Linked DNA regions of Homo sapiens. The protein of the gene in region 2 interacts with the protein of the main gene of each other region in a biochemical or structural test. Each region holds a gene or a part of one and is shown on either strand. Other genes may lie near its edges.

Region 1 (16,708 bases), on a different chromosome or scaffold from region 2:
AGGCTTCATCCAGATGTTAGGGCCCAAGGACCATGGTCACCCTGCAGAATAAGAAGCCAAGACCAAAAGGAATGCTTAGACTTCCCATCTCCTTGTTAAATATAAAATAATATTTTAAAAATCTTATTTTCAGGGTCATAGAGGTAGAAGTGATTTTGTAAATCTAATCCTTTCATCTTTTGAACAAAAAAAATTAAATCTAAGAGGTGAAGTAATACACTCAAGCTGACATGGTTAGTTAGTAATCAAATCCTGTCCTAACTCAGAATTCAGTTTTATAACACGATAGTGCCTTCCTCCTCTGGTCTTATAAATTAAAGATAGAATAGAGAAAGAGGAAGAGTGGGAGGATGGGGAGGACAGTAGGAGGAGGAGGAAGAAAATGTACTCACCTTTCTTTTCAAATAAAACTACATCTCTCATCCTAATGATTATGGAGGACTTCCTGTTTTCAGCCATTATCACACATTGTTGCTCTTTACTGTGATATTGGAATGCCCTGCAGAACGAAGCAGGAAATCCAATAAGTATTTTTCTTTATTTAAAGAAAACAAATGTTTATTAATAAGTGAGACATGCTAAAGATCATTGAATATCTTGAGGGACCAGAGAGCTCAGAATTGCTGCCTCTTTCAGTTATTTGGGCATGGCATCGATGAAGTACTGAACAAAATACACCAACGTGGCAGCAAATCTTATCTGCCCTTACCTTCCCTCCCTCATAATTTTCCCTTTCTTCCTGTTTCAACTGCTTTACTTCTTCTTCACTCATCTTCTTAATTTTTGTTTTTGGGTTGGAAAGAAGCAACTCTGGTTGCTTTGAACCCATTCGCCAAGATAGTCCGTCTCCATGACCTCCCAACTCTGATCAGTTCCCCTGAACCTCTGCTCCACATTCCACCCCACCCTGGCCCCTGACCCCTCCCATCTCCATCCCGTGGTCCTGCTATGGGTGCTCAGTCTGGATTCCATAGCTACCTTCCCAAGCCCGTCACCTACACAAAGTCTCTGCTTTAGTCAACTTCATCTCTTAATGGTCCCCCTCAGAAGGTGCAGGGCCGCATCTTCCCCTGCCTTCCTGGTGCTTGTCAAGAGCTCTCTCAACTCCAAACCCAGCTCAGTTCCCACCTCCTCCCTGAGCCTTCTCTAGCTGCCTCAACCTTAGGCACTGTTCTTTCTTCTGGATCTGGGTAGAGCATGCATTGATTATGCCTGTACCTCACTTGGGCTGTCTTTTTTTTTTTTTTAACATTATATCCAGTTTCTTTGACTACACCTTAAATACTAAAGGGCAGGCACTGGATCTTGTAGCTATAAGTCATTGCTCAGATCTATCTAGGACACTTTCATTCACCTGATCCTCAACAAACATTTACTGATGATGATGTTGAAAACTGGAGCTCAGAACAATAACTGCTAATGTTTGTGTCCGGTGTAAAAACAAATAACTTCCTTTGAGGGTATTTTTCTAACAAAGACTCCAATAAACCTTAACAAGAAGCTGTTAGTATGGCTTCACATACTGTGAGCAAATATAGTTCCAAACTCTGGCTCCATAAATTTCTCTTTCCTCTTAAATCATTAATAAATTTGTGAGTAAATTACTTGCCATCTGAATTACAGATTCCTGCGTAGGTGCAACGACAATGGAAATACCTGCAGGTGAATTCTTCGTCCTCCTCACATTTTGCTGCACATTCTTCTATACTTCCTGCTCCCAGCTGCTTCTTAGTGACACTGAACAGTGAAGCCCCCTGGGTATTCACATAGTCATCCAGAGGCTCTCCTTGACCTAGAGGTGGGAGATCCAAGTGGAATAAATGGTCAGTAAATCAATGTCAATGTCTAATTGTCATGACTTCCTTTTAATCTATTTGGTTAGCATTAACCAAATAAAACTTTCTGTTTACTGGAAGTAGAATGGGTAGCTATGAATCAAAATGTTTAGTTAAGAACACACAGTCGGGCATTTGGACATAAATAAAGATGGCAACTAAAGACACTGGGGACTACCAGAGAAGGGAGAGAGGGAGCAAGGCAAGGGCTGAAAAACTACCTATTTAGTAGGTATTTAGCTCACTACCTGGGTGATGGGATCATTTGTACCCCAAAGCTCAGTGTCACGCAATTTAGTTATGTAACACACCTGCACATGTACCCCTGACTCTAAAAGTTGAAATTATAAAACAAAGAAAAACAGTTTCATTAGCAGATTGCAAGATAGTAAAAGATTAACTGGATTGACAAACAGGTTAGAACTATGGAACCACTACTATGTTACCATATTAGTGGATATAAATCCTTAAACAAGAACAAATTTTATGTTTGCTATTGATTGTGCCATGTCATGAGAGAAGAGTAAGGCACCATCAGTGGCAGTTGTGTTACCAAGATTGATGTTGATTTGTTCATCCCTGGGTAGAAATGGAACTTGGAGGCCATTGTTTGATTTCCTACAATATGCGCTTTGGTTCTGGCACTGTCACTTGAACCGGTGGGAAGCATCCTCTGAATGGTCCCTCCTTGAGAAACATAAATTTTGGTGCATAGATGATGGTGGAAATAAACAAGAACTGAACTAAATTATGTTGCCACCTTGGACAAAAATTGGGCAAAACACTGGAGGGTAAGAAGCTCCCCAACAAAGAAGGCCATTTTTGTACTGGGCTTATGACAGTCACACAACACTACTAATTGGGGAGAAGTCAGTTTTTCCAAGGTGTTGACAGGTATCTGGATTTCGGAGGAAATTGTAAAAAAGCAGGACCTGGGACAAATACTGGTCTTGGTTTTTCTTTGAGATCAAATCTGAGACAACGAATCTGTCCGAAAGCTGCTTTCTGCCTGGTCGTGGCAGAGGGTGGCCAAGGGGGCCTCAGCTGTGCTCCCACCACAAGGCTACAGGGTGTCCCCTTGTCCTGAGGCTCTTCCAGACATCTGGCTGAGCTTTGGTAGCTCTATTCCAAGCCTGGAGATGCCAGCTCCGTCCTTGGCACAGAATGCTAGTGATTTGCACAAGGGTGAGAGGCCAAAAGAGGCTAATAAAATGAAGACAGGCAAGCTCCATGGAATTAGACAACAGGACAACCTTGACCACTTTGAGGGGCGTGGTGGGGGCCGCAGGCAGAGGGGGTGGGTTACAGAGTGACTAGGAGAGCAGTGGAGGCTGCAGCAGGAGACAAGCCTGGCTCTGAAGACAGCGAGCCCTCCAGGGAACATGCGGTCAGGGGAGGTTCTGAAAGATGACACACTGCAGAGCGCATTGGTTTGTATGCTGATGACAAGTATCCAGTAGGAAAGCAAATGAACAGATTTTCATTCTCAGAAAGGCCTGTCCTGACCTCCTGAGGGTACACAGAGCACAAGGGGCAGGACAGGGAGGTGGATGCATGCTCATCGATTCATGCAAAGTCCTCGGCCAAAGTCCCCCTGCTCCCCACCTCTGGGACTTTGTCCTTCCTCAATTTAAGACATTCCGGGCTGGAAAAATGGATTATTGAGCAGGAGTTGGCTGATGCATTCTAAAGCTAATCCACTAAAAAGCACTTGAGAGATATATCAAAAGATCACAAAGAAATAGATGCTTTAGGCCCATATCCATGTCTTTACCCCGCACTTTCTGCCAACTTGAACTCTCATTTTCAAGAAGAGTTGTGTTTTGGTTAATTCTATATAGCTCACAGTGTGACTTCAAAACACACAATAAATCCACAAAGTGTGTCCTACAGTGAGTTCAGTTAAACTTTCTGAAGAGTTTTTTTGAAGTATAGCAGAGCAGGCTACAACTGATATTCAAAAAAAGAAAACTTCCATTTATTTCCCCCTTCAATTAAGTTCTCTGTGTTATGTTACTATGCTTCATAGCGCATCGCTGCTGAGATCCCCTCCCCAGCTCATGTCCCTAGGAAATATCCCAAAACAGAATCAAACTTTTCTCTTTTCAGTTTGAAATAATTTTCCCCCATTTTTTCTTCTCTTATTCACCTCTAGGACTCATATGGCAATAGGATTTGATAGGGCTTATTTGCTGGCAAGGAAACATCAAACAAATCTTTTAGTGGAAAAATACATTTATATTATAGGCAAAATGCAGATGTATATTGCTACTGATGCAAATGTATTTTATTAATGGTGTGAGAATTTCTTCCTCACTGTGGTGTGTGAATGTGTATGCATATTTGCATGTGTAAAAGACTTAATTTGTGAAATGGAAGATGTTTCTCCACTTCCCACTAAGCATGGCTGTAAAAGAAACTTTTCCCTCTCCCCGGGCATTGCAGCACACTGGAAAGATGATACATCCACAGAAAACCTGGCTTTCCAAAAGAGCTTATGAGAGAATGTGCCCACCAGGTGGGTTAAAACATATGTTAATCCTGTGGCAGAGAAGTTTGATCTAGCCTTTGGGTGTAGCCCACTGAATAAGTTCATAGTGATCTATGTCCTAGTTTCCATGCATTGAAATATAATATTCATACCCCCCAACATACACCAATTTCTTACAAAAATTTCTTTAATTTTCTCCTGCTCTGTATTTTCTTTGATAGCTCCTTGAATGGCTTCCACTAAATTCAAATGTATTTGACTCTAAAGTGCAACTTGTAAAATTTTATCTGGTAATTTATAGATTGAATTTCAAGCGTACATTATTTACATGAAGAACTACTAGCAAATCGTATGATTCCGTTTGTATGAAATGTTCAAAATGGCAAAGATATAAATACAGAAAGTAGATTAGTGGTTGCCAGAAGCTGCAGATTGGGGGTAACAGCTAAGGAGAGTGGAGTGCGTTTTTGGGGGTATGAATAGTTTTAAAATTTATTCTGATGGTGGCTGCACAACTCTCAATATCTTGAAATCCATTGGATTGTATGCCTAAATGGGTGAATTCTATATGTTAATTATATCTCAATAAAGCTTTTTTTTTTTTAAAGAAAAAGAAGTACTAGGACATGTTTAGAATATTCTTTCAAAGGCTTAAACAAAGCTGAAAAGTGAGAAGAGCCCTAGATTCCTTCTGGGAAACCTGGCTTAAATCCAGTTTTCTTTATTTCCCAGATCTGAGAATTTGGTCACTGAGCAAATAACATGATATTCCTAAGTCTGATTTCTTTGTTTATAAAATGAGGATGAATATGCTACCCTACCTATACCACGAGCTAAATAAGCTAGTATTTGTAAAGGATACACACTCACACTCACATTCACACACAGGTATGTATGTATGTGTAAAAATGTAGGGACCTAACCCAAGCAACTGAGTATTTGTTGATCACTATCTGCACACAGCATCTGGCAAATGGATGCGTGTGATTTTTCCGGGGATAAGAGGCAAACGTATACTGATGGAAAGCCTTCCTCAGGCCATAACAAAGGGAGAAATGCTGAGTCCCCGACCCTGCCGCCACCATGAACTGGTGAGAGAACGGAATATATTCAAAGAGATATTTCACTGTTTTAACTTGCAAGTGAGGGGAGCATGACACCGTAACAGAGATGATATAAATTAGTCAAACTGAGAACCAGGCAAAGAGCTTAGCCGTCCTTTGCATAATTAGCTACATTGGCTCTTTTTCAATTAGACTGGCCATTATGTGGGTGCACTCATTTAGATTTGAAAAATCACCCATTATTTTCTCTGCCCATTCATTCCAGCACCCTGACAATCTTCACAGGAAACTTAAACTTATTTCTTGAAGAATTCCTCAATCTTATACAAGATTTTCAACTGGAAGTTTCATGAATCAAAAATTAAATGAATTGCACATAAAGCCATGGCATATGTATTTTTACTACATTGTGGGAGAAAAAATAATTCTTATAATTTAAAAAAACTATGTCTTACCTGATTTCAGAAATAAAAGAAGTAGAAGAACCACTTCCTTATGTTCCATTTTGGGACTGGCCAGCAGTGCCCAGAAAGTGGGTCCCAATCCCAGGATGTTGTTGACTTACATGAGAGTAAACGCATCCACAAACCAGATAGTCAAATTAAGTTAATGATTCTCTCAGAGACCCATGCCACTGGCTCAGCAGGGTTCAAACATTACCTTGAATAAAGAGTCCTTACAACATGTTTGAGGGTGGAATCTGCAATAGATGCTGGGAAGTGGTGAAAGCAATCTCCCCCCTCGGCTGCTCCACGCTGCCGTCATGTCTCCTTATTCCTTCCCTCACCCTTGTACTTTATCTCTCGCAATTAGTCTTATTTCCTCCCCTCTTCTCTTATTCCCTTTCTTTTGGAGAAAATGAAATCATAAAAGTATCTCACATTTGCTGGAACCTTCCATGACGAGACCCTCTGCCAAGCGCTGCACGTCCATAGCCTCCCTCAAGCTTCCCAACAGGCAGGGCTGTTCTCATTCCTGCTGTACGAGGGATGGGGCTGAGGCCTTCCCCAAGGTTGTGTCTCTACCCAGGGGTGCAGCTGATAGACAAAACCCCTTCAGGTCTTAGATGACAAACTTAAGTTAGGTGTAAACGTTAATATCTCTACATCCTACACCAAATGACATAGAAATTACGACATAAGTGAAAGTATCTTATTATCTTCAAAATTTATTTATTCCCAGTGAACTCACATGTTTTCTGTAATTATAAATTATGTTATAAGACATCAATCTTTCCCCCAAATGAACGTATGCCATATTATTATATTCTCATTCTCATGAAATAAAGCAAGACTGGTAGCATTAAGTGGAAAGCGTCTATCTCAATTTTAAATGTTGAATCTGTACTTTTCCCTGGCTTAAGTCTAGAGCAACCAGGTAGTATATATGCTGTAAAACTTCTATTTTAGTGTTCAAAGATATTTAGGAATAAATCAATTGACCTCTCTATTTTAGATGTGAAATAAGGACCAGAAAGCATTGTTCCTCTTTCCAGGCAGTGAAATTCCTGCCTATTCATTAACTGGCAAAAGAGTAGAGGTGGGAGCCCAATGGTCTTGGGTGGAATGTCCTGCGGAATTCCCTGGGATTGAGGAACCATGCAGAACCCTCAAGAAGAAGCCACACTGGGCAACAAGAGGGTGGCCCCATGTGAGGGACAGGGGGACCGAATCGCTTTTCCTGATTTCCTATTTTAGCCTCACTCTCTTCTCTCCTCAAATTCTTACCACTCCCTTTATCCTCTCTGACTCACCTCATGGCCCAGTTCATTAAAGGGGACAGAAGGTGGAGGCAGATTGAGAAACCAGCAGTGGGCAGACATTTTATTTTTAATGTGAAATGTCTCTTAGGGGGCTCATGTTGATGTGCTTGAGAAAGTACTCTGGGAAAAAAAAATACTCTACTAATATATAATGCTTCCAGCATGTATTTATTTCCACTTAAAATATTATTGTAGCAGTTCCTCTTGGATAAGGCACCTTGGGAATGATGTTATCAGAAATTCTACATCCACATAATTTTCTTTTCCTGTTGTTTTGGTTTTGACTTGGGTGGTGTTGGTATAGCTTTTGCCCACCTTTCCCCTGGTAGTTGTTGGATGCATTAAATTCTACAAATGTGATTTTATAAATTAGTTGCCCTCCTAATGGCCTCCTGGCTGTACATTCTTCCCTACCTTCATAATCCATCAGCATCGTGAAAGCACAGAGGGACGTTGAGCAGAGCTCTGTGCTGGCGCCACCGCACTCTGTAGCCTGTAAGAGAGCAGCAAAGAGGAATGTGTTGCTCAGGTATAGACGGGGGTGGGTGCATAGAGACTTCCGCTGCGGCATGGCCCTTCATGTCCAGGGTAGGCATGAAGCAATGGACTATTCCAGGTTGTGCATAGGAAACCACACAGCACTCTTGGAGGGATTTTTGCTCTAAAGACAACTAATTCAAAATAAGGCGCTTTCTACCTGAAAGAACAGCATGAACTAAGAAAAGAGATATATAGAGAGATCTCTGTGTACTATGATCAGGTTGCACATATTCTGGGATTTATGTATTCTTATTAGTTCAATTCCTTATTTATTGACCACTTACTGTTTACAATATTGTATTAGATTCTTTTAGGATTACAGTTGACCCTTGATCAATTTCAGGGGTTGGCACACTGACCATACACAGTAGAAAATCCAGGTATAACTCTGACTCTCAAAAACTTAACTACTAACAGCCTGCTGTTGACCAGCAACAGTTAATAACATGTATTTTGTATGTTATATGTATGATATACTGTATTCTTACAATAAAGTAAGCTAGAGAAAAGGAAATGTTCGTAAGGAGAAAATACATCTGTGGTACTGTTATGTATTTTTCCATACAGTAAGTTTACACCACCTGTTTACAAGATGAATCATCTGTCTGAAATGGAAGCAACCCCAGCTACAGACCTCAGTCTCTGTTACATATCAAGCAAATCCAGTTTTTCTTGTAATGTCAAATGTCATGACTTTTCTCTGCTTCTTGGGAGCACTTCCAGCATCACTAGTGCCACTTCATATTGGATCCCATGGTGTTATTCAAGGTTTACAGTACAGCACGAAACAGGACGAAAAATACATGCGAACAGGGAGAGAGCACTTTTTACTGTGATGCGCAATTCACTGGGGATGAACTGCTCATGATGGAATGTTGAGTATCACAGAACGTTTTAAGTGGATACTCGCAACACCTTTGCTCATTGCAACAGCAACAGGAGGAGGATATGAAATTATTACCATAGTGTGGTATGCACTACGGTTAAATTTATGCAGTTACAATTTAATACTGCATCTTGATGTTTGTATACACTTCTCTCAACTGAGAATAGCACCATATACGATCTGTGAGTGTGTACACAATTTTTACTAAATTTTAACTTTTGCAATAGTTTTGTTATATTTTATGGTAGTAAAGAATAAAATAGACTAGGTATCTACATATATTTTATGCATTCATGACATACTTAACTTTTTCTATTTTTGTTGATATTTCTAGCTGGATGGTTTGTCTTTGAGTTTTTTCAAATTGTTGCAAAACTCCAAAACATTTTCTAACACATTTATTGAAAAAAATCTGTGTGTAACAGTTCAGACGTGTGTTGTTCAATGATCAACTATATGTCTAAAGAGTACAAGTCAGTCTCTAACCTTCCCCAGCCTCTCTATGCTAAAGGAACTACAGGAAACTTTCGCACGCAAGATGTGTGGAGATTCTGCTGCTGCACTTGTAGCAGGCATAGGAACGTTCAAATAGGCTGGGCGCGGTGGCTCATGCCTGTAATCCCAGTACTTTGGGAGGCCAAGGCAGGTGGATCACGAGGTCAGGAGTTTGAGACCAGCCTGGCCAGCATGGTGAAACCCCATCTCTACTAAAAATACCAAAAATTAGCAGGGCATGGTGGCATGCTCCTGTCGTCCCAGATACTGGGGAGGCTGAGGTGGGAGAATTGCTTGAACCCAGCAGGCAGAGGTTGCAGTGAGCCGAGATCGTGCCATTGCACTCCAGCCTGGGTGAGAGAGCAAGACTCTGTCTCAAAAAAAAAAAAAAAAAAAAAAAAAAAAAGAACATTCAAATAAGATTGGAGACAAATTGAATTCTCCTTAGCTCTGCCCAGCATAAGGCCTGCAATCAAGATCCACTCAGGTCCTCTTAAGAAGGAATAGACGTCTCTTCCAGCATTAAAATGGTAAATTCCTTTCAAGTATTTACAAAGAAAGTTATAAACACCAGGAAACATCAACCTCACCAGGAGGTGAGGTAGAGTTCAACCTTCCATCTCACCTGAAGTGGAAAATGCAGCCAAGTCACAACTTCCTAGGCGAAGCACGTCCATGCAAGCTGGACTGCATTGCTGGCCTGACATTTGCACCTGGCAGCTCCACGCCACCCCTTCTTTCAACCTTCCTTGAGCCCAGGCTCTGCTGCCCGGGAACTGCCATTCTAGGACAGCTCATTTCATCAACATGAACTTCTCTGCATAGCCCCAAGAGGACAGCATCATTTCCAAATGGAACTAGCAAGAACTTAATTAATCTACTAAGGACTCATATAAAGCATCCCTCTGCCGTGGTAAGGGTCCTCGGCAAGTTTATCTGTGCCTTCGATGCCAATGTGCAGATTGTTTTTACTGCTGTTTTAGTGTATTAGGGCATACCAGCGAGGAGACTTGTACTAATTAACCTGGAGGTGGCTCTTCTTTCTTTAGTTGCCCTTTTCCACATGTTAGCCTTTGTTCATCAGTCCCCAGGACCATGCAATGAGGTGATTATCAGCCCTCATGTCCTGTAAAGAGATAGCAGACTATCTCTCAAGTTAGCACAGTGGTTAAAATGTAATCAACTCGGGGGCATTTTCTTTTCCTTTCTTTCTTTTTTTTTTTTGGAAACAGAGGCTGGCTCTGTCACCCAGGCTGGAGTGCGGTGGTGCAAACACAGCTCACTGTAGCCTTAACCTCCTGGATTCAAGCGATTCTCCCACCTCAGACTCCAGAGTAGCTGGGACCACAGGTGCACGCCACCACGCCCAGCTATTTTTTTTTTTTTTGTATTTTCTGTAGAGACAGGGTTTTGCCATGTTACCCAGGCTGGTCTTGAACTCCTGGGCTCATGAGATCCTCCTATCTCCGTCTCCAGAAGTGCTGGGATTGCAAATATGAGGCACTTTACCTGGCACTAGGGGACACTTTCTAAGTGAGACCTAACTCATTTGGGGCTCAGTGAGGTGATATTTTCTTAAATGAGTTGTGCTTGAAAAAATCTAGATATCTATTCATCTTTGAAAAAATTAATTTTCATTGGCTGTCTCCTCATCATTAATAAGCATGGCTGTGTTACATGCTTAAGACAAATTTTAGCAGAGAAGAAGACAGTCAGACCCGGATAACTTAGCAGCCTGCACTGAGTTGGCACCAGGACTCCCCAGAGGAGAGACGAGGGTCCTTCTGCTCTGAGGTCCAGACTCACCATGGATAAAACAGAGATGCACCAAATCATCCTTCCCACCTCTCACATTCATTGTTCTCTAAGCTTATTCGGAGAAAAAAAAACCTTATCTCACAGTATGTCGGGGAGATAAGTCATGTAGAAAAACATTAAAATATTTTCAGGAAAGCAAATGAGTGCACAAAAAACCTGGTGAAATCTGAGCAAGGTCTGCAGACTAGTTTCTGATGTGGTGCCAATGGCAACTTTCCAGTTGTAATCATGAACTATAGTTATGTAAGATACTGCCTGAGGGAGGCGGGGCCATACAAGGACCTCTCAGTACTATATTTGTAACTTGTTGTGTTTATACTTAATTCAAAACAAAAATTATATGTATATATTTACATATATACATACATGTTATGTTTGCAATACATGTGCCTATATTTGGATACATGTGTCTATTTTAGGAGGACCCAGGATGATGTAACTGCTTTCACACTAGTTAAGAGAACTCCCAAAGCTCAGGGAAAGTCTAAAGTTATAGAGTTCCTAACTCAGGGTGCAGAACTCGGACTTTGGCTGATTCTCGTGAGCTCCTGGGATGAGTGGGTGGGACAGAGAGGCTTCTCCACCACCACGCTCCTTCCCTGGCTGGAGACCAGATGGTTAAGGACTGATGGGTGCCAGAGAGCAGCAGCACCCCATGTGGATCCAGAACCCAGAGGCTGGAGTAGTTCATGCCTGCTCCTGCCTCCCAGGTATTCAAGGGAAACCCACCATCTCCACACACCAGCAAAACACCAGCAAAACAGAGGCCCCAAGTAATGACTTCTCCGTTCTCATCTTATCTTGCCACCTGACCAGCTCCTGGGCTCCTCAATCCAAAGTTGGGGAAGAGAGAAGGGAACGTCAGTGGAAACCACTTTTGCTATAAACGCTCATCCTTCAGATGTTCTTTCAGTGGGTACAATGCTTAGTGCTGTGCTGGGTGCTAGGGAATCAAGAGTAAATAAGAGGCCATCTTTGCCCTCAGGGAGTCTTTGGTCTAACGGGGTTGGGGCAATGCAGGTCTGTAAACTGGAATTGTAAAAGTGAAGTGGCCCAGGTCCCATTTGCTGTAGTGGTGCACAGAGAGACAGTCTTGAGAGGTGAGGAGACATTTCCCAGAGGAAGTGACATCCAAGTTGAGACTTAGAAGACAGCTGGAAGGATGAGAAAGGAGAATAATTCTGTGAAGTCCTAATTAGGCAAAAGGAATCAGGCTGGTGACACTGAGGAAAAAAGAAAGAGAAAGCAGATAAGCTATAAGTTTGCCTTTCTTCATGGTCCAGGACCATAGCCCTCCTGCACAAATAACTCACAATCTTCCTGTGCCCAGCTATCACCAGGCCCTCAGCTGATAGAAAAATGCAGGTTATCCCACTGCAACCTTGGTGTTATCAGTACTGCACTAAGCCCTCTTCAGCACGCAGCACAAGCAACATCCTATAAAACCCCCAGCAAGCCTTTGTCTCTTGGCATTCAGCTCCTCTCTTGCTGGCCTGCCCCTTGCTGCCTTGCAACATATTTTCATGCTTTCTTTAATAAATCTGCCTTTCTTTATCTACAACTGTCTTGGTAAATTCTTCTTACTGCCCATGGGATACTGGCCTCAGATAGTTGCTTCACCTGCTACACATTCTTTAAGCAGAAGAAATATATGTGCAGGGTCCCAGAGGCGGGAGGAGCAGGCAGATGAGAGGAATTTGGCTAACATGGGGAAATGGTCCAATTGTGCAGGCTTCTCACTCTGTTTCAAGAAGTTTAGACTTCAGCCAAAGAAAGGCAGGGACTACTGTTACTGAAGGCTTTTAAAATCCAAGGGTGGCTTGATCTCTCTGATTGCAGTGTAGTGAGGAGGTCATAGGAGGTGAGAGATGAGAGGGGGTGAAAGAAGGCAGTGGAGAAAGAGAAAAAAGAATGGATTAGGGGGATGTTGAGAAAGTAGAATTGACATGATTTTGTGACTGACTGAATGTGGGGAATGAAATCAAGTATGCTGCCTGAATTTCTGTCTTGGACATCTGGTGGATAGTGGATCATTCATTAAGAAGGAACACATAGGAGGGAATAAGATGAAATTGCCTGGGGACAATGTTATGTTTAGGAACTTGAGAAAACCCAAGTGGAAATTTCCAGAAGGGAGTTGAATATTCTGGTTTAGAACAGGAGTTGGCAAATTATAGCCCATGAAGCAGGCTTATTTTTATAAATCAAGTTTATTGGAACATGGCCACACCCATTCTTTTACCATTTTCTGTGGCTATATTTGCACTACCTTAGCAGAGTTGAGCAGATGTGACAGAGACAGTACAATGAGCAGCAAGCTGATAAAATATTTGTTATCATCGCTTTACAGAAAAAGTTTGCCAATTCCTGGTGTAGAGCCTAGGAAAGAGGTCTGAGCTGGAGATGTGGAATCAGCAGTTGTCAGCAGATAGGTGGGATTGAAGCAATGGGGGTGGACAAGCTTGCTCAGAGAGAGAAAAAGAAGCCCTAGGATAAAGTCCTCAACAACATAAAGACCCAGAAGGAGAGAATTCTGTAGAGATGACTGAGAACAGTTAGCCAGAGGGGAAAATTGACAGCGTGAGTCCAGAGAAGCCAGCAAAAGTGAAAATTGTAAAAAGGTGGGAGTGGTCATGGGTACCAAAGACTTGTGAGAAATCAAGTGAGATGTATCCTGTGTATGCCAGAAGGTAAGAGCAAATGAGGCCAACATAACCTTAATAATACCAATCTCAATGGCCCAGACTCCAGCAAAGTCTACTCTGGCTACTGCTACCACTAAATATATATAAAACTCAGTAAAATAGCAATTTTAATTAAACAAATTCCTGACCTATTGCTGTAATACTCCTTTACCAACATTTTTGCCTGTGTATGCTTTGATTGCCTCTTCAATAATGTTGTAATATCATATTCTATGAGAGAAGAGAATAATAAACTATTTTGGCTCTAGTATTTTATTATTGATAGATTTAAATTTTTCTTCTGGCTTCATAGCTCATGATCGATAATGGAAGATTAGTTTTCAGGATTCTTGGCACACTTAGGAAAATCTTTATCAAACTATTTTTATGTATGAGCTGTAAGATTTGGTTTAATTCCCAGATGGGATGAGCTACACTCTTTTCTAGCTTTGTACATTTCTATTTTTCTTATTCAACTTTTATTTTAAGTTCAGGGATAAAAGTGCAGGGTTGTTACATAGGTAAACATGTGTCATGGGGGTTTGTTGTGCAGATTATTTCATCACCCAGGTATTAAACCTAGTACTCATTAGTTATTTTTCCTGACGCTCTCTCTCTTCCCATCCTCCAACCTCTGATAGGCCCCAGTGTGTGTTGTTCCCCTCGACGTGTCCATGTGTTCTCATCATTTAGCTCCTACTTATAAGTGAGAACATGCGATATTTGGTTTTCTGTTCCTGTGTTAGTTTGCTAAGAATAATGGCCTCCAGCTCCATCCATGTTCCTGCAAACGCACATGTCTTGTGACACAATCGTGATGTAATCTATGGTCTTGCATATTTACATTACACCTCTAGGTAAGTCAGCACAAGGGAGGTGAAGACTATTCTGAAATCTGTTTTACACAGGGACAGCTAGCAATAACATACACAGAAATGACTCCATACCACATAAATAAATCCCATGGAACCCAAACTCAATGACTCAACTCAATTCTTCTTTTGCTGGATCCTCAAAATGCCCACATCCACTCCACCACCACCCAACATGAGGGCAGAAAGAGATCAGAATTTTAGCCAATTACAGCTAAAATGTCTGCTTTTGACAAAAGCAAATGACCAAATGGATACATTGCCAGGGCCCCTCCAGAGCCTCAGAAAGGGCCTGTTGAAGTTGTCTTTTGCTATGGGATGAATCAAACCAAAACACAGTGGCTTAAAATAAGACGAATTATTTTATTTCTGAATTCTGAAGGTCTGCTGGGTTTGGCCAGGTGATTCTCTTTCTTGTGGTCTCTTAGGTCAGTGGTGGCTAGGGCTGAAACCATCTCAAAGCCTTCCTCACGCACATCTCATGGGTGATCCCAGCTGTTGCTGGAATCTCATCTGTGACTATCGGCCAAAACACTCAGAACTTCTCCATGTGTCTGGGCTTCCTAGAAGCCTGCAACTGGCTTCCAACAGAATCAGGCAGAAGTTATTTCTCCTTTACAGTCTAGCCTGGAAATACTCCAGCATCATCTGCATGAGAGTCACAAGTCTCCCCAGATTCTAGGGAAGGACATATAGACCCCACCTTTCCATGGGAGGACTATTGGCCTCATCCTGTAAGAAGAGTACATGTGGCTGGAGTCTTGTGGCTGCCATCTTGGAAAATACAATCTGCCATGGGACTCATGCAAGGAAGGAGCCCTGAGCCTGAATGTTATTAGCTTTTCTGTGCATCGGTCTCTATTTGCGCATGTTCCATAATTCGTCTCCTTCCAGAGCTTGCCAAAAGTGTCCCGCTATAATCTTTCCCTCTCCCATGTTGACACAGGTCAAATCCTTGAACTCTGTTGCCCAAATAGCTTCAAGCACATCTGCTTCCACTGAAGGTTGAGCCAAAGGTTAGTCTCCTCCCCCTCCACTAGTGGTGGCCTGAACCCCCAATATCACTGTGTCTTTGTTAGGTAAAGGGACTTGTATATTTATGGCAGGTGGTACCTGAGGAATAAGCTCTGGCTGTCATTGCACACAGAAAGTTAGGTTTCTGCTATTTCAGAGGATAGCCCCCCCTTGTGTTCAGTCAGAGGTGTAACCAGACACAGTTTTATGGGAATCAAAAGTGTTGCAATCTTTAATTGCCATAAACATGCAATCCTTCTTCCACAAAGCATGCTGAAAGATGTGCTTTTTGGTGCTGTGGTGGCAGGGTTAAAATGGAGTTTTAGCATTCGTCCCACTTTCTATCTCAAACCAGTAGTCCCTCCAACCCGACATCACGGTGTTGGGGGAGACCGCTAAGTGCTTGGCACAGCCAGCCATGTGGTATGGAGCCACTTCTGTGGCTGTACCACCATCTGACAGTAACCTCACGAGAGACCCCAAGGGAGAGAACTGCCTGGTCAAGCCCAGCCAAACTCCTTTTCCCCTTAATGGAACATTCTCTCAGGAAGCCTGGCTGTTTCTAACAAATTGATCTTGGCCCAGAGCCATCGCAATTTGTACAAGATTTTATATCCCTGCACCTCAATAGTCATGAGAGTGCTGGCTTCTCAGTATTTTTCTTCCAGGCAGACTGCTCTGGCCCACCAGGTGAATCAGGGTTGTGTTTAGATGGTTAGGAGACTCCTCCCAAGTTTAAAACAGTGTCCAAGCCTCAACTGTAAATCAACTGGGGAGACACCCCAACCCTAATCACCAGCACTGTCTGAGCTCCAGTCCCCGCTCTATCAAGATGTCCTTTTAGAAAGATAAGGACTAAAAAATGCTCACTGAGTTTGGCGATGACAGTCAGTAGAGGGGTGGGAAGAGAAATCACGCCATATGTCTCAGCCCACTTGTGCTGCGGTAACAAAGTGTCACAGTCTTTGATGGATTACCCAGATGACAGCCTGGGTAACCCATACAGGACAGAAATATATCATCTCACAGTTCTGAAGGCTTCAAAGCCCCCGATCAAGGTGCCAATTATTACAGTGTCCTCACATGGCAGAAGGCAGAGGGTAGGAGAGGATGAACATTGTGTCTTCACACAGCAGGACAGTGAAAGAGCCTGAACCCACTCCCACAAGTTCCCTTTAAAACAGCATTAATCGGCCTAAATTCCCAAAAGTCCCCATCTCCCAACACTGTTTCGTGAGGGATTAAGT
Region 2 (16,421 bases):
ATTCAAGATACTGTGATGTGTGTCAACACTCTCCCTACCCACTACATACAAATGTACAATGACATTGATGTATTACATGCTTGTATTATAAAACTCACAGTGACCAAAACAGACTCCCCAGTCAGGGATTCCCAGACCCCTTCTAGGTGGTCTAATAGAAACATAGAAGCCCAGGGAGGAAAAGAAAATCACTATGAAGCTCCAGTGAGGCCACTGCCCAGTGCAGCAGCACCACCTGCTTGGCACAGGCACCAAATACATCCTGTATTAGTTTGCTGGGGCTGCCATAACAAAGGACCACAAACTGGACGGCTTAAGCAACAGAAATTTATTGTCTCTGTTCTGAAGGGGAGAAATCTAAAATCAAGGTGTCTGCAAGGTTTGTTCCTTACTAAGGCTGTGAGAGAAGCATCTGTTCCAGGCCCCTTCCTTGGCTTGTAAACAGCTGTCTTCATATTCACATTGTATGGTCCCGGTATGCATAGTCCAGTATGAATTGTATGGTCTTGTATCCAAATTTCTTCTTCTCATAAAGCCATCAGTCACACTGAATTGGGGCCCATTCTAACGACCTCATTTTAACTTGATTACCTCTGTAAAGACCCTATCTCCAAACAAGATCACATTCTGAAGTACTATAGGTTAAGGCTTCAACATATGAATTTGGAGACAGGAGACACATTTCAACCCATAACACACCCCTTTCAAAAAGGGGACGCAATCGTTGGTCTGCTGCTGAGCTCTTGTTAAAAATGAACCCATGGAGGCTTGTAACTCCCAGGTCTGACATCTCCATTTTGGGGTGGGTCAACCAGGACACAACAACTACGAGGAGAGTAGCTCCCACCCTCTCCCCCTGCCACAACCCACCCCTTGCTCATGGCCCACTGTAAAAGCAGTAGGCTCCCTAAGCTCAACGCTGCTCAACTGTGACACAAATCCACTGAGTGCATAGCACTCATTTCGCCCGTGCCCATCTTTGTCACCTCGGTGAGTTTTGGAGGACATGGGGAATTAACACCACCACGCTCATGCTGTTTGCTGTGCTGTGAGTAATAAAGTCCTCTGACTCTGATGTAGTTGTCTCCAGTCTTCTGTAATAGGCTAACACGTTAGCTTGCAAGTAGGGTAAAATCCCAGACCCTTCACAGACCCTGACTTCATGGGGACCAACATAAGAGTAAAAACCCTGTAGTTTCCAAAGGTCTTTGACAAGGACGTGCTAAGCATCGGATAGCTGGCTGATTTGTAAACCTAATACTTGGTCTCGCCTAGGTCACTGCTCTGTTACAATAATTCAGTTGTCCATTCTTTCAATTGTTTCATTGTCCCCAAAGAGATATTTATTCTGCATAAGACACTCTTGTCAGTCATTAAAAACAATAATAGTAACAACAGCAACAAATATTTATGAGGTGAGAAGCATTTTTCTAAAAACTTGAGGCATTGTTCTATATATTTCATCTTTAATCTTTAAAACATCCCTTTGAAGGGGATATTATTACCTCCAGTGTACAGATCAGGAGACTGAGGCACAAGTCACACAGTTAGTCAAGGGTGGGACTGGGATTCAAACTCAGGCAGTCTGGCTTTAGTCTTCATTTTTAACCACTAGCTACATGCCTTACCAGAGGACTTTCTACTCCCAGAGCCATAATGGGCCACAGAGGCCTAGACATCTTTGTCTGAAATCTTAGGAAAATAATTCGGGTCAAACTTTTAAGACTTGATTTTTTGACTTGCAACATTTTAAAATGTTTTTTACAACCTGTATTAGGCAATTAGATAATCTTCTGCAGTGCTTTGATCTTTTCTATCCAGCCACGTCTAAATCCAATGTTAAGGTTTCACACTCCATGTTAGTTTCCTATTGCTGCAGTAACAAATTATACGAAGTCTGTGGCTTAAAACAACACCAATCTATTATCTTACAGTTCTAAGTTCAGAAGTCCAAAATGGGCTGGCAGGACTGCATCCCTGTAGAGGCTCTAAAGAATAATCTGTTTCCGTGCCTTTTCCAGCCTCTAGGGGCTTCCTGAATTCCTTGACTCATGATCCTTAAACAATCTTCAAAGCCAGCAGTGTAGCATCTTCAAATCTCTCTTATACTGACTCTCATGCTTCCTTCTTTCTCTTATAAAGACCCTTGTGGGCCAGGCACACATACCTGTAATTCCAGCAATTTGGGAGGCTGAGGCCAGTAGATCATTTGAGGCCAGGAGTTCGAGACCAGCCTGGCCAACATGGTGAAACCTTGTCTCTATTAAAAATACAAAAATTAGCCGGGAGTGGTGGTGCATGCCTGCAATCCCAGCTACTAGGGAGGCTGAGGCACAAGAATCGCTTGAACCCAGGAGGCAGAGGTTGCAGTGAGCCCAGATCATACCACTGCACTCCAGGCTGGGCAACACAGTGAGACTCTCTCAAAAAAAAAAAAAAAAAAAAAAAGACAGACCCTTGTGATGACAATGAGTCCATCTGCATAATCCAGGATAATCTCCCCATCTCAAACATTATCTTTGGGGGTGGGGGGCATTATTCTATGTACCACATACTCTAAGCAGTTATCTCTTCCTACAGAATGGAAATTTTTACACAAATTTATCTGGATTGGAGATTTAAATTAGCCCATTCACCAGATAATTAGTAAGCCATTTTATCTTGGTTTTAAGGATGCAGCCCAAAGAACATTTTATTGTTGGGAGTCAAAGAGAATGTACGGCTGGAGTACATGTGGTAGAAACTTTAAGCATTGTAACAACATAATAGCTTAATTATTTTAAAACATACCTGAAGTCGAGCATTCATAAGCATGAACTCCTTTTGATTTTTCATGCTTTCATTCATAGATTTTGAAAATATAAACCCCATTTTGACCTAAAATGTAAAAAAAGCAAGGAGACTTATAATAATACACTACATGCATTCTTGTATGCTCCACTTTGAGCTACCTTGGGCTTATGACAAAGTAAAAAAAAAAAGTAAAATTTCTGATCTAGGAACACAGTGTGGATTCTAGTTCTTGCTCCTAACTAGCTGCCTGACCTCAGGCATACTTAACGAGTCTGGCCATCATTTTACTCACCTAACACCAACTGATTGAACTAGATAATTTCCAAAATCCTTCCCTGCTCTATAAGTATATGGCTGTTTCCTGATTTTTCTTCCCACCATAAATCTTGAAGAACTGAATTCTTGAAGAAAAAAACAACTCTCTTTTTTTGTGAGGGGAAGGGTGGATACCATCCATCTTCTTACCTCTGTACAATTAGGCAACAGAACCTTTGCATCTGAGGAGGGATGATTAAGAAGATGCCTTGTGCGTCTTAAGAACATATTTCTTTGTGCTCTTTGCATTTGCGTTTTAAGAAGATTGAGCTCTCCCTCTCCCTCCCCCTCCCCCTCCCTCTTTCTACGGTCTCCCTCTCTTGCGGAGCCTGGACTGTACCGCCATGATCTCGGCTCGCTGCAACCTCCCTGCCTCTGGCTCCGGTGATTCTCCTGTCTCGGCCTGCCGAGTGCCAGGGATTCCAGGCACGCGCCACCACTCCTGACTGGTTTTTGTATTTTTGGTGGAGACGGGGTTTTGCCGTGTTGACTGGGCTGGTCTCGAGCTCCTGGCCTCGGGTGATCTGCCCGCCTCGGCCTCCCGAGGTGCTGGGATTGCAGACGGAGTCTCGCTCATTCAGTGCTCAATGTTGCCCAGGCTGGAGTGCAGTGGCGTGATCTCGGCTGGCTACAACCTCCACCTCCCAGCCGCCTGCCTTGGCCTCCCAAAGTGCTAAGATTACAGCCTCTGCCCGCCCGCCACTCCGTCTAGGAAGTGAGCAGCGTCTCTGCCTGGCCGCCCTGTCTGGGAGGTGAGGAGCATCTCTGCCCGGCCGCCACCCCGTCTAGGAAGTGAGGAGCGTCTCTGCCTGGCCGCCCATCGTCTGGGATGTGAGGAGGGCCTCTGCCCGGCCGCCCCGTCTGGGAGGAAGTGAGGAGCGCCTCTGCCCAGCCACCCCGTCTGGGAAGAAGTGAGGAGCGCTTCTGCCTGGCCGCCCCCTCTGGGAAGTGAGGAGTGCCTCTGCCCGGCCGCCACCCCGTCTAGGAAGTGAGGAGCATCTCTGCCTGGCCGCCCATCGTCTGGGATGTGAGGAGCCCCTCTGCCTGGCCACCCCGTCTAGGAAGTAAGGAGTGTCTCTGCCTGACCGCCCGTTGTCTGGGATGTGAGGAGCATCTCTTCCTGACCGCCCATCGTCTGGGGTGTGAGGAGCATCTCTGCCTGACCGTCCACCGTCTGGGATGTGAGGAGCGCCTCTGCCTGGCTGCCCCATCTGGGAAGTGAGGAGTGCCTCTGCCCGGCCGCCACCCCGTCTAGGAAGCAAGGAGCGACTCTGCCTGACCACCCATCGTCTGGGATGTGAGGAGCGCCTTTGCCCGGCCGCCCCGTCTGGGATGTGAGGAGTGCCTCTGCCCGGCTGCCCCGTCTGGGAAGTGAGGAGCGTCTCTGCCTGAGCGCCCATCGTCTGGGATGTGAGGAGCGCCTTGGCCCGGCCGCCCCGTCTGGGATGTGAGGAGTGCCTCTGCCCGGCTGCCCCGTCTGGGAAGTGAGGAGCGTCTCTGCCTGAGCACCCATCGTCTGGGATGTGAGGAGCGCCTTTGCCCGGCTGCCCCGTCTGGGATGTGAGGAGTGCCTCTGCCTGGCTGCCCCGTCTGGGAAGTGAGGAGCGTCTCTGCCTGAGCGCCCATCATCTGGGATGTGAGGAGCGCCTTTGCCCGGCCGCCCCGTCTGGGATGTGAGGAGCGCCTCTGCCCGGCTGCCCCATCTGGGAATTGAGGAGCACCTCTGCCCGGCCGCCCCGTCTGGGAGGAAGTGAGGAGCGCCTCTGCCCGGCTGCCCCGTCTGGGAGGAAGTGAGGAGCGCCTCTGCCCCGTTGCCCCAAATGGGAAGTGAGGAGCGCCTCTGCCCGGCCGCCCCATCTGGGAAGTGAGGAGTGCCTCTGCCCGGCTGCCACCCTGTCTGGGAGGTCAGGGGCGTCTCTGCCCCGCCGCCACCCCGTCTGGGAAGTGAGGAGCGCCTCTGCCCGGCCGCCACCCCGTCTGGGAGGTGAGGGGTGTCTCTGCCCAGCCATCCCGCCTGGGAAGTGAGGGGCGCCTCTGCCCGGCCGCCCTTCGTCTGGGAGGTGGGGAGCGCCTCTGCCCGGCCGCCCCGTCTGGGAAGTGGGCGCCTCTGCCTGGCCACCCCGTCTGGGAGGTGAGGAGCACCTCTGCCCGGCCGCCCCATTTGGGAGGTGAGGGGCGTCTCTGCCTGGCCGCCACCCCGTCTGGGAAGTGAGGAGCACCTCTGCCCGGCCGCCGCCCCGTCTGGGAGGTGAGGGGTGTCTCTGCCCGGCTGCCCCGCCTGGGAAGTGAGGGGCACCTCTGCCCGGCTGCTCTTTGTCTGGGAGGTGGGGAGCGCCTCTGCCCAGCCGCCCCGTCTGGGAAGTGGGCGCCTCTGCCTGGCCGCCCCCTCTGGGAGGTGGGGAGCGCCTCTGCCTGGCCACCCATCATCTGGGATGTGAGGAGCACCGCTGCCCGGCCGCCACCCCGTCTGGGAAGTGAGGTGTGCCTCTGCCTGGCCGCTCCGTCTGGGAAGTGAGGAGCGCCTCTGCCCGGCCGCCCTGTCTGGGAAGTGAGGTGTGCCTCTGCCTGGCCGCCCCATCTGGGAAGTGTACCCAACAGCTCCGAAGAGACAGCGACCATCGAGAACGGGCCATGATGACGATGGCGGTTTTGTCGAAAAGAAAAGGGGGAAATGTGGGGAAAAGAAAGAGAGATCAGATTGTTACTGTGTCTGTGTAGAAAGAAGTAGACATAGGAGACTCCATTTTGTTCTGTACTAAGAAAAATTCTTCTGCCTTGGGATGCTGTTAATCTATAACCTTACCCCCAACCCCCTGCTCTCTGAAACATGTGCTGTGTCAACTCAGGGTTAAATGGATTAAGGGTGGTGCAAGATGTGCTTTGTTAAACAGATGCTTGAAGACAGCATGCTCGTTAAGAGTCACCACCACTCCCTAATCTCAAGTACCCAGGGACACAAACAGGGCCAAAGGCCGCAGGGACCTCTGCCTAGGAAAACCAGAGACCTTTGTTCTTGTGTTTATCTGCTGACCTTCTCTCCACTATTATCCTATGACCCTGCCACATCCCCCTCTCTAAGAAACACCCAAGAATGATCAATAAATACTAAAAAAAAAAAAAAAAAGAAGAAGATTGAGCTGTCTCAAGGTCAGTAGACCAGTTATTCTTCCTGTCATCCCACCACAATCCCTGTCCCTCTCCTACATGCCCCTTATTTCCATCCACCCACTGCTAACTGCCTTAGCCATCCTCCTCCAGCTTCACTCTCATTCTCTCCAAGATAGCATGTACTAAAGTTCTCAAAAATGGAAAAACATACAGATACTTGAATGTCCTGGAAAATGTACTTTTTAGATGAATGCACAGTAGTGTCTATCTTATGTAAGTTTTTAAGTGGGCTGTCAACTCTACAAGGGACAGAACTCCAATTTTTATTCTTAATCCAACTGGGTGGGTACAGAAGACCTTGAGTTAGTTGGTTGCATTTCAGAATACTGCAAAACTCAGGGGAAAGTTACAACTGCTCTACCCTTCTCAACAATGTTGCTGATACCTTTTCTCTTTAATAGGCTGTTGAGTAGGGTTGTGAACCTCAGGTAAGAATGGCCAGTCTTAATTCATTACAGCCAGGATTCCCAAGTATTCTGTGGGAAGCCCAGCTAATGGGGTTCCAGGTGAGTGGGAGCTGCAAGCAAGACTTCAGTGACTTCCTTGTATTCTGATCAAGGATACACCTGGAGTTTCAGGGCTCTGTGCCAGAGTCAGCTTCAAAGCTGAGCACAGGATACCAAACCACTTACCAGGATGAAGAGGCACAATGCTGAAAAGGCCTGAGGTGGTGAGATTTCCCTCCCCTTCTGCCACTGTGCCACTCGAGCACCCTGTGACCAGAGTTAGAGGCCACTCACTGACAGCAGGGTGATTTGGCAGTTCTTTCCTTTCTCCAAACCCTAACAGTCCCATGCGACTCATCTCTAACAGCAGACCAGAACCTGCCTGAGGTTAGGAGCGAGATATTATCCATCTTGATAGTCTCCATGGTGTCTACTTCCCCTAAATATTTGCACAAAGCATGAGAGATACAAGAAAAACTGTGGCTCAGGCCACTTGCCATTACTTATTTTTCTTCTGAACATAGGAGTGGATGACTAAATTTTTACACCTGCTGCAAACATTTATAAAGAAAACAACTGTACTCTAGTACTATTCCTCCACATACCCTGTATATCACAGAGCTGTGTGCTTTCAAGTGCTCCTGTTTGTAAGGGGTTAGGATCTCCCCTGAAAAGAGAGAGTCCTCATGTCAATCATCTGGGAAAGAAACACTGTCTGGGAAGTTAGTATTTAGATTTACCTCTTTCTGGGCCTTGCTCTCCTGGGTCTGGACTTGTAGTCTGAATGTGTTAGAGGACGCTCCCAGGTGGAAGGGTTAAAGGTGGAAGCCAAGCAGGAAGAAGAGCTTCCTTATGGGAAACCACACCTGAGAATAAATAAATGCATCACACCTTGTAAATTTCACCCTGGAGTTCAGTATTTTCAACATTCTTTCCTTTCCCAACTTCCCCATTCCTGGCAAAGTCATTTCCCAAAGTCTGGGAATATTCCGTAGGGTGTCCAGAACACTTTCAGCTATCTCCTCTTGCTCACAAAATATGTATCAGAAAATAAGCAAAATTGACCTTGCAATAGGGATAACTTTGATTTCACTCACTTGTATAAGTTAAGTCTTTTAAAAATTCTAACACTTTTCACCAGGGGTAAAAAAAAATGTCTTGCTACTTATACAATTTTAAACATCACTGTGTCTCAGAGTGATGTTTTGCAGAGAATGCTGATTTCAATCCCTCTGTCTTCATTTTCCCTTTGATTCCTTCTGAGATCTTGGAAGGGGTCTTTAATGCTTCAGCCCTGCCTCAGGTGAGCTATAGATTACTATGGGAAGGTGTATTTCTGGGGAGGAGAAGTGGTGCCTGCAAGTTCCAGACAACCTTTCTTCCGGTCACCCGTGAGTACCTAGATTTGATTTTACTTGGGGGGACATAAAAAATTAATTGCATGAATTCTGTCATCGGGATTACCACGCTGACTTATTTCCCGATCAGATGACACATTGCCTGAATGTATGACTGATCGTCTCACCACAGTCATTTTCAATATTTGCATCCCATTGAAATTAAGCCACATCCCCTTGCAAATTCCAGCCCAGAGCCCACAGCTTCCGGAGGTTTTCTGTAATTAACACCGCCCTTGCTCCCTGAGGCCAGTTACTGTAATTTAGGTATTCCCCGCAATAGTGTGCTGATTTCTGTTGAGAGCACTGTGCCTGTTTTTCTCAACTCTATTTTAAAGCTACGGAGAGATCCGGAGTCCACGCCAGGCGACAAGAACGCGCTCTAATGGAACGAAGTTGGCAATACCTATCAGCACCAGGGGCAGTGCGAGAGCCAAGAGCCGGCGCTCACGAGGAGCGGGCGCCCAGCGCTGCCTGGCAAGCCCGGAGCCCAGGAGATCGCGCTGACTGACATGGCCGGGCTGACCCTTCTCCCCACCCGCCTGCGGCCGGTGTTCACTCACTGGGCGGCGCTGGTGCCGGGACCAGGCGACCGGTACGCAAACCTCCAGGCCCGGGCTCCTTTCGCCCGCTGCAGGGACCGGGCCTCGCTCCGCCCAGCGTCGGGATTGGCGCCCAGACACAGTAGATGACGCACCTCAGCCAATTCGCGCAGCCCTCAGCTTCTTTAAAGAGCCGGCACTTCCGCCAGAAGCCGGGTGTGTCCTTCCGGGCCAGGCTCAGTGTTACCAGAGGTGGGAGGGGAAGGTCAAAAGAGGCAAATTCAAAGCCGCGGCGACTCAGCTGCCAGATTTTTGAGATGAGGCAGAGGAAGCGGAGTGGAATTCTCAATTAAAGGCCTCTGTCCCCTCATCTGTTAAATTGGCACTATTAAAAAGTCATAAAGATAAGACAGAAACGAGAAAGAAGAGAATTGACTGAAATTACCCATTCTTTTTTGAACAGAGCCGTCTTTCTCCCCTGCTGCTCAGAGAGATGTCGGTCTCGCCTCAACCTCACCAGCAATTTCTATCTTGAATAAGCCACGTCTCTCTCCCAGCCTGAGAGAATGCTTGAATTGTTGGCACTCTGTTCTTTGCTACCAAATGGCTTGGAAAAATAGCATGAACGTCACCAGTCTCTGGCCTTCAGGAAAGTCCCTGCTAACCACCACAGCGGTGGAGAAGGCGTCTAACTTTCTCCAGGCTCAGCGTGTGAGTGCACACCGCCCTGACCTCCTGGGCGCGTCTTGATGCTCTCAACAGCAGCCCTCAGGATTCTGGACTGTGGGTCCCACATTCCAGATACCATTTGTGGAATGGCTGGATGAGAAAATTGCAACAGCACCCTCATTTCCAGTTAAGGGAATGGGCGGGTTACCAGGAGGTTTGACACTCTTGAAGGGAGGTTAACAACTGATGCAAGAAGTAAGGAATCGTGTTTGAGTGCACAGACTCTAGCATAAACACACCTACCTTCAATTTCTAGCTCTGTCACTGTCACTCTGAATTTATCACCTCTGCAACAGGACTAAAGCCATCTAATTTATTGGATTGTGAGGACTAAAAGATAATATATGTGGGCATTTAGCACAGTGTCGGGCACATAGTTCGCCTTCCGTAACCAGTAGTAACCAGTAACAGCGGGGAGCTGTTAGTAACTATAGGGCTGAGGGGTGGGGGAAGGAAGCAGTTACTAAAACCAGGCGAGAGCGAGAGCGGTAGCTGTGGCTGTACGAGAGAGTAACCAACTGGAACCGTGTCGTTCAGTAGAGGAAAGCAAGCAATGCCAACTTTTCACCAAGTAAGGTGAGATTCTATAGTTGTAGCCAGTGCTGAGACGTCAGCCCAAAGCAGGGACAGAGTGGAGAAGACCCACCTCTCTGTTCTCCCAGCTCTGATATCCAGCTGGGGTCTTCCGCTGGCTGGATCCACCAGGAAGCCAGAAGACAGTGGAGCTAGGTCTGTGTAGTCTGTAGAGGTCAGCCTACTAGGCACAATGCCTGGAGGGAGAAATAGAAAATATCCAGCACACCATTTCTTTTTTTTGTTTGTTTTTACACTTTAAGCTCTAGGGTACATGTGCACAACGTGCAGGTTTGTTACCTATGTATACATGTGCCGTGTTGGTGTGTTGCACCCATTAAGTTGTCATTTACATTAGGTGTATCTCCTAATGCTATCCCTCCCCCCTCCCCCCACCCCACAACAGGCCCCGGTGTGTGATGTCCCCCTTCCTGTGTCCAAGTGTTCTCATTGTTCAATTCCCACCTATGAGTGAGAACATGCGGTGTTTGGTTTTTTGTCCTTGCGATAGTTTGCTGAGAATGATGGTTTCCAGCTTCATCCACGTCCCTACAAAGGACATGAACTCATCATTTTTTATGGCTGCATAGTATTCCAGCACACCATTTCTACAACCTTGGGTTTATTGTGTTTGGAAGCCTAGATCCAAAGGAAGGAATGCTGCCACTAGAAGACCCCGTCACTGAATTGAATTGAATTTCAATTCATTGATTCGAAAGCTGAAACTGCCCTCTGGTCACTTTGATTCCTCACAGTGACAGAATGGTATGATTCATCCCAAATACCAAAAGGAAATTGGGTTACATCTATATATTGAGGGCAAGAAGAACTATGCATGACACCTGGAGATTCACTGGGCACTTCTTAATACTGCCGTGTGCCATAATAATGATTATCAGATAACTGAAGTAATGCAGAAATTTCAGATCATGAAGAAATTAAAGTGTTGAAGCATACCAGATAAAAAAATCCTGATCTACCTAGGTGTTGGCATAGGGCAGGGGAAACATACATAAGTAAATGAGTAGGAAGCTATGATTATTAATTTTAGCCTTGCAACAAGCTCTAGAGGCAGGAATTATAGTAGCTCTCCATTTAAAATGTTAATTACTTCTTCCCTGACTCTCTTTTCCTATTACCCTGCATAAAGAGTAGTGGTGGAGATAAATATTACAATTTAGTTTCTGGGTGAGAATGTGCCTGAACTGACATCCCCTCAAGGCAATATGGCAGCTGATGAGGCTTGTTAAGGAAAATCAAAGCTGGACAATAGCTGTAGCAGTAAAAATAGATTTTTATTCAGCAACTTTTGAAATAGGGGGAAAGAGACCTTGGTAAAGAACTGGGCTCAATTCTGAATACAGTAAGGATAAGTGGGGATTTATAGCCGAGGAGCAGGTTGTGTGGATGGGGGTGGGGTCCGTGGATGGAAAATTACTAAGAAGAGACAGCAAGGGTAGGGGAAATCCTTGCTAAACTGACCTAACAGGATTCTTGCTAAAGGTAGGCCAGGGTAAGCAGACATCACCTGGGGGCTGGTGGGGGTAAGGAATTTGATCAGATATTGAGAGTGGTCAAACATTCAGGGTGGGAAGATCCTCTCTAAACTGACTTAGCAGGATTCTTGCCAACACTGATTCTGCAAGGATGAACACTGCAGCCCAAGGTCAATATCTAATCAAGGAGATGGCTTAGAGGAGCCTGACTAAAGTTTGGTCGAGGAGAAATCTTGTCAGACTCTGTCATTCTCATATGTAAGGGATGAGCTGCTCTTCATCTGAGCAAAGGAAAAGAATAAATTCTGGGTGACAAAACAATTAGACTGTCTAGGTTTTCTGTTTGCCTTCCATCATATTCATTCTCCTCACTTCCCTGCCCTGTTCTATACCCCAAAGCTGACCTCTTTGGACGGCACCACCTGGGCTCTCCTCAGCTGGTTTCCATTTGAGTTTGGACAGCGGGAGGCATTCAGGGAGATGGGAGGCAGGAGGAAAAAGACATCAGGGTATATTTTCTCTGTTCTTTCTCTGTTTGGGGCTGAGTATCTGGTGGTGGTTGTGTTTCTCCACAATTGCAGCTCTTGGCAAGCAGTCCCTTCTCCATGGCTCCAGCTCCATGGGCTCTGGAAACACTTTTCTCCTTTGCTATGTAGCCTAGAGAGAGCGCAGTCTTCCTGCTGTTGCTAGACTCTGGATGACTCAACTGGATGGTTCTCTTAGTCATACTCCTTTAAGTAGTGTCTTCACTAATATCTCTTTAATCAAACCAACTGAGTAAAATTCTGATTCCTGATGGATACATGTTAAACCGAAAACACACATTATAAATTTTCTTGTATGTATGATGTTTTTCATAATTTTAAAACATAAGTGAAAAAAGTGACCATAGAAAAATATGCCCAGGAAATTGAAAAAAAAAGTCTTGGTATAGATATTGGACACATTTTATAAAATGTGGAGTAAGAGGGTTAAAGGAAATTTATTTCAGAATCAAATGGCATATAACTTTAACTGGTATGTGAATTATTTTCAGTTGTATGAATTTGTGAATATATATGTGTACATTTTTATGCATATATATAAATATGTGTTTTATATCATCTTGCATTATAACATAAGGATTTTTATGTTGCTACATTGCATTTATATTTACCATTTTTAACAGCTAAAGGATTTTCAATAAGTGTGTATGTAACAACTTCCATTGCTGGATATTTCTCAGTATATATATGTATATATACATATGTGTGTATACATATATATATACATATGTGTATATATACATATGTATGTATATGTATATGTACGTATGTATGTGTATATATACATACATGTGTGTATACGCATATATACATATGTGTATATATACACGTATATACATGTGTGTATATATACACGTATATACGTGTGTATATACACACGTATATACATGTGTGTATATACATGTGTGTATATACACACGTATATACGTGTGTATATACACACGTATATACATGTGTGTATATACACACGTATATACATGTGTGTATATATACGTGTGTATATATATAAACACATATATATATGCACATGCATATGTATACACTGAGTTAAGTAGTATAAATATTTTAGAGAAAATTGATGTAAAATCCTCAACTCATTTGATGCTCCCTATCCCAGGACAGTAAAAATTGCCCAATATTTCCTTGGACCTCCATAAAGAAGCAGTTTTTCAAAAAATAAAGTGTTTGGAAGTTTAAGATGTGCCTAGCAGTGTCTCCTTTTAACAGAGATGCTTTCACAAGGATTTGAATTTCCCCATTGAGCTGGGAACCAGGTTTAGCCAAGAACTTCGGTCTGTGAAGGACTGCAAATAGTTGCACAGTGTGGGGCTGAGGCTAGAACCTCCTTAATATTAAACCATTCTGGGATGGTGCTCCCCAAATTCTGGATTTTAACCTTCACTCCAATCCTGGGGCACCTCTGTAGCTTGGGCATGACCTGGACACAAGCTTTGTGTAAGCCTTCTTTGGACTTCATCCATTCCTCAACGGTGACACCATGTGGCAGTGTAATATAATGGCATCAGTGGACTCAGATCCTGTTCTCTCCCTACCTAGAGATTTTTAAGATTAAGATATGTAATTCACAACCATAAAATGTACCACCTTAAATTGTACAATTTATTGGTTTTTCATACATTCAAAAAGTTGTACAACCACCACCATTATCTAATTCCATAACATTTTCTTCACCCTAGAAAGAAACCTCATACCTATTAGCAGCCACTCCCCAAACTCCCCATTCTCCCCATTCCCCCAGTTTCTGGGGACCCCTAACCTACTTTTTGTTTTTATAGATTTGCCTATTCTGGACATTTTATATAAATGGAAGCCTACAATCTATGGCCTTTTGTGTCTGGCTCCTTTTACTTAGTATGATCAAGGTTCATCCAAGTTGTAGCATGTACCAGTACTTCATTTCTTTTTATGTCTGATTAATGTTCCAATGTATGGATATACCACATTTTGTTTATCCATTCAAAATTGTGGGGCATTTGGATTGTTCCCATTTTTTTTGCTGTCATAAATAATGCTGCTAAGTTTTTGTATGAACGTATGTTTTCAATTCTCTTGGGTATATATGTAAAAGCAGAATTGCTGGGTCATATGGTAACTCTGCATTTAACTTTTTGGAGTTGAACAAATACACCATGCCAGCAGTGAATAAGGATGCTGATTTCACTATACCTTTGCACAATAGTTAAGAGCATAAACACTGGAACCAGATGTCTGGGTTCGAATCCCAGCTGTGCTATCTCCTAGCTGTGTCGTTTAGACAAGTTACTAAAGCTCTGTGCCTCAGTGTCCACATCTCTAAAATAGAGGCAATAATAGTACCTTCCTTACAGGATTGTTGTAAGATTTAAATGAGCTAATATGTGTAAATCACAAAAATAGGGTCTGACATTTTTTAAATGGTATATGTTTTACCATTGCTGCTATTTTAATCTTTATTATAATTATTGTGTTTTGTTTTGTTAATTTGATAGCTTTAAAAGGTAATGATACAGTTTATTGATGTTTGTTATGAAAAGGAGTAATTGGAGAAGATAAAAATGTAAGGGGTAATAAAGTCAAGGAAGGTTTTTTGAGCTGAAAATGATTATATTTCAGAGTGTAACCTGAATAAAACTGAGGCTTCACATGGCTCAGTCCATGCATGTAATAGCATTCTAAGAAAACATAAACTGAATGAAAACGTAAACTGTGAAGCATGAAGAATAATGAGGGTCTTCACCTTATGCTTTCTGAAGGAGTCCCCGCAAATGCTTCACACAGCATATTGAACAAGAAACTCCTAAAATCTTCTCTAGATATTTCTCTCTTTCCTATTTTTTCCCACTGACAGTAGCACCTTATATCTATCCTCCTCAACTGCGAGGTCACTACAGCACTATACTAAGCCCCTGTTAACTTCCTTCTCTTGAAACCCATGCAACTCACATGATCCTATTCTCAGCCTGTGAATCTCAGCCTCCTGCAATCCTGTGAAATTCAACTTGGTCTCCTACTCTGAATGTGTATAAAAATAACAGAGAACAGTTCCTGAACTCTGATGAGTAAAATGATCTACCTTATTACATGTGGTATTATAATAAATAAATATACATTAATTTCTTTCCCCATTTTCCAGCACACAGCTCCTAAAAGACTTGTAACTTCCTGAGTGATAGGTATGCTAGGTAAATTTTTTGTTCTATGTGACCTTCGACTCCAGTTCTTGACACAGAGCTCCTGATCCCTTGGAATTTCCATAGTGATAGGAGCATCTTTCATTCTCCTGAAGTAACTTGGTGGGCTTCTGGATGGGAGCTGGTCACAAGAATGACCAAGCCATGATTAGAAGCTTGGAACTTTCACCTCCTACCTCATCCTGTGAAAAGGGGAGAGGGGCTGAAGATTGAGGTAACAATTGCTGATGTGTACATGATGAAGTCCCCATAAAAATCCCTAAATGAGGGGATTTGGAGAGGTTCTGGAGGTGCTGAACGTGGAGGTGCTTGGAGGGTGGCCTATCCAGTTCATCTCCAGAGTTCACACACTCACCTAAGTGCTGATGCCCACCTGATGGCATTTCTCAGCCTCCGAGGCTTTCCTTCTTTGTACTTAGTCAAAAGAATGCTCTAATCCAGTCTATCATTGATGGGCATTTGGGTTGGTTCCAAGTCTTTGCTATTGTGAATAGTGCCGCAACAAACATACGTGTGCATGTGTCTTTATAGTAGCATGATTTATAATCCTTTGGGTATATACCCAGTAATGAGATCGCTGGGTCAAATGGTATTTCTAGTTCTAGATCCTTGAGGAATTACCACACTGTCTTCCACAATGCTTGAACTAGTTTACAGTCCCACCAACAGTGTAAAAGTGTTCCTATTTCTCCACATCCTCTCCAGCACCTGTTGTTTCCTGACTTTTTAATGATCGCCATTCTAACTGGTGTGAGATGGTATCTCATTGTGGTTTTGATTTGCATTTGTCTGATGGCCAGTGATGATGAGCATTTTTTCATGTGTCTGTTGGCTACATAAATGTCCTCTTTTGAGAAATGTCTGTTCATATCCTTCGCCCACTTTGTGATGGGATTGTTTTTCTCTTGTAAATTTGTTTGAGTTCTTTGTAGATTCTGGATATTAGCCCTTTGTCAGATGAGTAGATAGATTAAGGAAATATGGCACATATACACCATGGAATACTATGCAGCCATAAAAAAGGATGAGTTCATGTTCTTTGTAAGGACATGGATGAAGCTGGAAACCATCATTCTCAGCAAACTATTGCAAAAACAAAAAACCAAACACCGCGTGTTCTCACTCATAGGTGGGAATTGAATAATGAGAACACTTGGACACATGGTGGGGAACATCACACACTGGAACCTGTCGTGGGGTTGGGGGAGGGGGGAGGGAAAGCATTA

Evidence for each region.
Region 1: the proteins of PLGRKT (region 2) and PLG form a complex in vitro, tested with the Homo sapiens proteins (one study listed by IntAct).

Annotation. Positions count from the first base shown.
Region 1 is NC_000006.12:160,691,491-160,708,198, reverse strand, and holds the start of PLG (plasminogen isoform 1 precursor), read right to left. Parts: upstream 5,956-16,708; 5' UTR 5,895-5,955; coding exon 5,846-5,894; intron 1,793-5,845; coding exon 1,657-1,792; intron 500-1,656; coding exon 393-499; intron 1-392. UniProt on the Homo sapiens protein: Plasmin dissolves the fibrin of blood clots and acts as a proteolytic factor in a variety of other processes including embryonic development, tissue remodeling, tumor invasion, and inflammation. In ovulation, weakens the walls of the Graafian follicle.
Region 2 is NC_000009.12:5,429,107-5,445,527, forward strand, and holds the start of PLGRKT (plasminogen receptor (KT)), read right to left. Parts: upstream 8,820-16,421; 5' UTR 8,683-8,819; exon of another isoform or gene 8,526-8,682; intron 7,589-8,525; 5' UTR 7,463-7,588; intron 2,878-7,462; 5' UTR 2,872-2,877; coding exon 2,791-2,871; intron 1-2,790. UniProt on the Homo sapiens protein: Receptor for plasminogen. Regulates urokinase plasminogen activator-dependent and stimulates tissue-type plasminogen activator-dependent cell surface plasminogen activation.